2 separate regions of the Homo sapiens genome follow, and region 2 is reported to be linked to region 1. The links are microRNA targets in miRTarBase. Many come from high-throughput screens and were not tested one by one. Region 1 holds a microRNA gene; the other region holds the end of a gene's coding sequence.
Evidence for each region. Region 1 holds the annotated microRNA hsa-miR-491-5p (AGUGGGGAACCCUUCCAUGAGG, at 1,313-1,334, shown strand). A microRNA usually pairs through its seed, bases 2 to 8, with sites in the 3' UTR of a target mRNA and lowers its output. Matches are read on the target gene's strand: a 7mer-m8 pairs with bases 2 to 8, a 7mer-A1 pairs with bases 2 to 7 and ends in A, and an 8mer does both.

Region 1 (3,000 bases):
GGAAACAGTCTGTTTTAATGTGTGAACTTCTAGGTCTTTTCTATACTTCTTGAAAAAAGTTCACCTAGGCTTCACACTTGTCACTAGCAGTTGGATTAGTGCTTAGATGAAAGCTTGTGCCAAAGTGAGGCATAGATGAAGTAATTTTATGACCGTTTGACTCTTTCTCCCTTATAAGTTTTGATCCACAAAAGAATTAATTTCTATTTCAAATGTGTGGTTGAACTTTTGGATGTTTTTTTCATTTCCGTAGTGCAAATTCATCTTTTTCAGGATTAGCTCTCATGGGAAAAACCAAGAGCTGTTGGGCATTTTTAGTTTATTTATCAATCATGACATTTGAGTGCTGGATGACAATGAAGTTTTGCCAAGGATTACTCTGCAGAGCCCTGTGCTTTATTTCCATTGTTATCTTTGGAATGGATTACATTCACATTATTTGAGGAATAATTAATTGGAGCCCCAATTCAGACCAGTTGGAAGACTAACAAATATTCTTTTGTTTTGGTTACAGAAGCTGCACACATACATGTAAGAGAAGCAAAAATGTCAGATGATATCAGGAAAAGGTTTGAATTTCCAAATTCTCTTATCCAATCACAGGTAATTTTGTTTGTTTATTTTTGCTCATGGTAACAAATAAACCTGTTCTGTGGATTTTTAACTGAACTTTATATATTTAATATTAAATATTTTATTCTACATGTAGAGATTTATATTTTGTGAAACAACTTTAAATATACATTTAATTTGAAAATATATATTTGACATGGAAAGCAAATATTTGAAATTGATCAATCTCAGCTTCTGTTTATATATCATACTTTTCTTCCTAGAGATAATAAAACCTTGATTAACTAGTAGGCCCCTGAATATGTTTGTTTGGTTTTTTTTGGCCTATGATTATTGGGAACAGAGGTAAACAGTTATATGTCTGAAGAGTATGAGGGATTAATATTTAAGAAGACATATCCTACCCCTTATATAGATTTTTATAATAATGATATTTAATAAGTAAAATATCCTGGATTAGAAAATTTGATATATCTACTAAGATAGAAGATTGTGATAACTTTAAAGAGCTTTTCAATAATTAAATAGTTAAAACAAAGATGGCTTTCTGGGTAGCCTTTAGCTAACTAGAAACATTCTGGTTAATCAAGGTATCATAATAGCTTATTGTCTTTTCTTGTGAGAGTAAAGCTAACAGACCAGCAGAAGCCATCTTGAAGACTTAACAACATACAGCACCTTGGATACTTTCAACAATTAACTTCGGAGATGTCTGCTGTGGGAATTGACTTAGCTGGGTAGTGGGGAACCCTTCCATGAGGAGTAGAACACTCCTTATGCAAGATTCCCTTCTACCTGGCTGGGTTGGAGTCATATCCTGCAGGTCCTTACCATGAAGAAGAAGATGAAGGCTTGGAGGATACTATTCACAGTTTTATTTTTCTGTGCCTGGAGTCTCTTTGTTAACATAGATAATCAAGAAATGCCCATACGTGTTACTGTTAAATTAGGTGAAAAAAATATATATATATATTTATATTGTTTAGTGTAGGATGGCTATTTGAATTCTGTTATAGAACACTTAAGTAGCAATGTAGGCTGATTTATCCTTGGGTTTTGTATTTTAAAAAATCAGTTTAGGCTAGTATCTCTGATTTGTTAGAAGATGAAGTGAAAAGTATATTAGATAAATTCAACCTGGTGGGGAATGGGGAATTAAGCTTCTCTTCTTTTATTTCTTTTTCTAGATATGAACTATAGCTTTTTCTTTGTCCCTATTGTGTTTCATATTAGTTTTATTAGGTTCTTGTGATTGTGTCCTGTCCTTTGCAAATATTTCTTATTGTTCTTCTGTAACCACTGCTCGATGTTAGCACCATATTTCTTTGATTCACACACGTTTTTTTTCAGATTTTAACATCTTTGAAATTGGATTGCCTCTAGTAATTGATGGCAGCAGTTGAGATACAGTTGGTATTGCCTGCACATTTGTGAACTTGGGCATGATTTTCTACACGAGTCTAAAAGAACTCTTGTGTGACTATAAAACCAAAATTCCGACTTATAAGAAGCACTGTATATCATAGACTAATTGGCAGCCTTTTTTCTTTCTTAGTGGCACACAGTATAATGGTGCAACTTGCAATTCCTGGTCAGTTCCATTCAATGAAATATGGTATGTTTTGTAAAACAGGAGCTCAACCTATCCATGGGTGCTCAGTTCTTATTACTATTCCTTTTACTAGGAGATAAGAGACAGTAAGTTGGACTAAACTTAATATTCATGTAAATGAGTGACTTATATCACAAAACTAGACCACAAGCACCACGGTCTTAAATCAGTTCCAATGTGTGAAATACAAAGAGAAAAATGAGGAAGGAGTGGGTGCTGTGTTTTTATTTGAGCTGTTCTGGAGACTTTGCAGGACTGACAGTTATTCACAGCTATACCGTAATTTGGTCCCAAGTGCAGGATGGACAGTTGTAGCAATAGTGAAGTAGTTTCCAACCCGTACACAGAATGGCAATGATTGTTGCTAGCCTATTGGCTCTAAGACATATTCTTCATATTCGTTAACAGTGTGATGAAGCATGGTGGATTTCGTTTCAGTGCAAAGATGATTTTAAAAACTATGGGCTTTCTCATTCATGTTTTAATGGAGTAAGCAATCTCAAGTTATCTTCTGATACTGACAGCAATTTGAACCAAAAATCTGGCAGTTTTCTTAACCTCTATGCACTATAGTTGCTTATTGGTAACCTGGGATAGATATGCCTACCTTGAGGGCTATTCTGAAGATTAGAAATTGTGCATGTGGAGTGCCTAATTCAATGCCTTCTACATAGCACACACTTAGTTAATGGGAATTTTACTTAATCCTAATTGACTGCCTGGCATACTCATATCAACTAGTATTGATATTTGGAAAGAACTTCTAAGGGACTGTGTTCATTAATTTTATTTCTTTTTAAGGCTGTGGGTCATCT
Region 2 (3,523 bases), not on the chromosome of region 1:
TCTGGGGGTCTGCTTCTCCAGCACTCTCCTTGCTGGAATTTGCCTTGCATTTTCTCACTTCTGGGGTCCCTTTTCTTGGTTTCTCTGTCCAGAAAGATGGGTTTCTCCCAGAGCTCTAGCCACCTGCACTGTCTCACGCTTCCACCCTTAAGGAAACAGGGCTCACCCTTAAGGAAAAGTAGTGACAGCAAAGAGAGAAAAATGGGAACCCCAACCCTCTCTAGTCCACAGTGCCCCCGTTTCCCAGGCCTCTCTGGAGTTGTTGCCCTGGTGCTGGCTGCACAGGACCACAGATTAGGGCCACCCCCGGGTCAAATCTGAGAGAGGAAAAACCACCCATGTGCCTGAGGTCATTTTTCAAGTTGTTGCTTTCTCCTCAGTTCACCTGCTAACGTTTACATCCTAGAATGCTCAGTGGCTAACATGATAGAATATTTCTACCTCAACCCCAAAGCCATGATTAGCAGGAAAATACTAGAAGCATCTGAGAGAGAGAAAGCAGTCCAGGTAGCCCGGAGCAGGCCTGTCCATCAGCCAGGCCAGGATGTCCATGTGAGGACCACGAAGTGCTCCGCAGAGCATCCGCAGCAGACCGTGACGGGTGAGGGCTGAACGAGCCCCTCTGTGATCCTGCCTGAACAGATGACAGCACAAACACCGGCCAAGCCACAGGGCGTCGACTCCCCCGGCCCAGGTGACAGGGGTGACCGCAGCTGCTTCAGTCACAGCTTCAGCCTCGCCTTGGGCTCCTCAGCCTGGAGGCAAGGCTTGTTAAGACCCCCAGGAGGGTCAGGCAGTGGTCCATGTCTGTAATCCCAACAGTGGCTGGCTGAGGCGGGAGTTCCAGACCAGACTGGGCAACACAGCAGGACTCCATCTCTACAGTTTTTAAAACTTAGCACAGTGGATCATGCCTGTAGTCCCAGTGCTTTGGGAGGCTGAGGCAAGATCGCTTGAGGCCAGGAGCTCAAGACCAGCCTAGACAACATAGCAAGACTGTTTCTAAAACAAAATTAAAGTTAGCTGGGTGTGGTGGTGTATGCCTGTTGTCCCAGCTACTTGGGAGGTCAAGGCTGCAGTGAGCTGTGATCACACCACTGCGCTCCAGCCTGGGTAACAGAGCAAGACCCTGTCTCTTGAAAAGAAAAAAAAAGAAACCTCCCCAAGAAGGAAGGGGCTTGGGCCCAGGCAAGGCTCCGGCACAGGGCAACATGGGAGCCAGAGACTGGGGAGAAGGCAGGCTCAGGGTGTTTGAAACCAGCTCAGGGCCTCGGGAAGGAGCCTCCCAGGTGTGAGGTGAGGGGGCATCATCCTAGGACCCATGTATCACTGAGATTATCCGGGAACAACGTAGGGGGAGAGGAGAGCGAGGGCTTTGCTTTCATTTGTATCACAAGCAGGGAGTAGGTGTAGGTGTACAGGCACCCAGCTCTTGGCCTGGAAAATGTTCCCCCATCGTCTTCATGGATAGGTGTGGCAAGGGGCTAAGGCCAGGCCACTGGGGGTACCCTTGCAGGCAGAAGGGGCTACCTAGCTACCTGTGCTCCTGGAGGCCCCCAGGTCTTCAAGAAGTCATCTGAGGGGCACAGCCTCTGGAGTGTGCCAGCCTTGGGTGCTGGGGAGGGTAGGAAAGAGGCCAGAAGAGCAGCCTGGAGACTTGGTCCCCTGGCCAACAGTTTCTGCTGAATCTCTGAGACATCGCACCAAAGCCCTCCAGAGTTGGCCAGTGGCCTTGTAGGGGGCAGGGCAGGCCATTGTGCCTGCTAGAGAGGGGAGCCCTGCCAGTCAGGAAGCTGTCACCATGGAGCCTGGGGGCTCAAGGGGGCAGAGGCAGGTTTGTGTCCCCGCTTCCTCCACTGGCCGATGCACAGGCCCTGAGGCTGGCAGGACGGTGGAGCCCGCTGGAGGTTGGAGCGGGGGCAGCCTTAGCGCTGCTGGCCTGGTGCCCACACCACCTTCTGCCTGGCTGCCCCACCTCCCACCTACTCATGTTTCTGTGACCTGGGAGGGTTCACCTAGGGCAGAGCAGTAGGCACCACAAGGGCTCTCCCACCCTCAGTTCCCAGGCTGGAGGCCCGACCACAGCCATAAATCAGGGAACCCCTGAGCCCAGGGAGGCTCCGTGCTGGGCTGAGCTGGCAGAACAAACGCGGCGCTTTAGCTCGGCCTCCATGCCCAGCTGGGCCGAGGATCCCCAGGGGCCTGTCTGGTCCCACTGGCCAGCGCTCTGCCTGCCTGGTAGAGCTGGGGCTTGCCCCTGGCCAGGGCAGCACTGACCCCACACCCCCCACCTCCCCACCCCAGCCCAGCAAGGGCCACGGCTCCACCTTAGGCCCCGTTTCCTCACCTGGCCTGCGGGGTTCTGGCCCACTCCTCACCCTCAGGACACTCCCTGCTGCGTGGGGGCCTAGGCTAGAAGGAAGGGTGCCCCAGGTCAGGGGACACCCAGTGGGGAGATGGGAGGAGGGGTCAGGATGGACAGTGGGCCCCATGGCAGCCCCCACCCTGACGCACCAGCAAGAACTCAGGGCATCTGGGCAAGGCCCTCTGCGCACCACCTGGCTGCCTCTGGAACCTTCCCACCCAGAGAAGGGGAATGCACCTCTGGTCCCCGCAGGAACCTGTCTTGAGGCACCAACAACACGCTACGAAGGACTCAAGCCCAGCAAGAGGAAGAGAGCCAAGGACACAGGTCAGCATCGCAGGCACCTACTCTGGAGTCCAGGAGCAGGGATACGGGGGCAGAGGATGGAGCAGCTGGGACCTCAGGGAGAGGTACGCAGGTTGCCATGGCTGCGTCTGCAGTCCACCTGCCTTTCCACGCCAGGGAGTCAGTGATGTGGAGCCCCCTGGGCCCCAGTGGAAGCAGCGATCAGACTATGTGTCCTTGAAATAATGTTTATTCCACGCTGTCCCGACAGCCCCCTCTGCAGGTCCCCTCGGTGTACTCTGAGGTGGGAAACCCTCCCTGGGGGCGGTGAAGGGGAACTCGGGCCACCCCACCAGCCAGCAGATGCTCCAGCAGCCAGAGCCCCAGCCTGGAGCTGAGGCTCTTCCTGGGGCTCGCCGGGCCCCTGCAGGCTTTTCGGACCCTCAGCCAGCCCGGCTTCCTCTGCTTTGGGCAGCAGCAAGCTGGCCCTTGGGCACCTGGACTGCTCACCAGCCGCCCAGCCATGGGTCCTGCTCTCCAGGTTCCTTCTAGCAGATCCATCTCTGTCAGAGCAAGGGACTCAGGCCTGGACCATCTTCTGGGCTGTCACTGGGGCTCTCAGTGGCCATCCCAGCTCTGCGCTGGCCCTTCTGGAGCGTGTAGGCAGACGGCCCCAGCCGCAGGATCTTCCCGCTGCCCAGGCACTCGTCCCCCTTGTAGAACACAGCAAACTGTAGGGGAGAGACCCTGGCATCAGGGGTGCCACAGGGAGCCAGCCGAGGGCAGGCAGGGGCAGAGTGCTCCCCTATGGGGCCTGGCCTGTGCTCGGAGCACCAGGCACTGAGCTCCCAGGGGAGCAGGGTTTTGCTGCTG

Region 2: the mRNA of TRMU is a reported target of hsa-miR-491-5p. The part of its 3' UTR that is shown has no 7-base or 8-base seed match.

What each region holds. Positions count from the first base shown.
Region 1 is chr9:20,714,808-20,717,807 of GRCh38, forward strand. MIR491 (microRNA 491) reads left to right here and starts at 1,298; the gene lies at 1,298-1,381. FOCAD (focadhesin) reads left to right here. Exons shown (of 44, transcript NM_001375567.1): 2 at 515-603; 3 at 2,987-3,000. The coding sequence starts at 547.
Region 2 is chr22:46,356,700-46,360,222 of GRCh38, reverse strand. TRMU (tRNA mitochondrial 2-thiouridylase) reads right to left here. Exons shown (of 11, transcript NM_018006.5): 11 at 2,883-3,381. The coding sequence ends at 3,217. Among named protein-coding and RNA genes, the nearest start is that of TRMU, 23 kb to the right of the region's middle.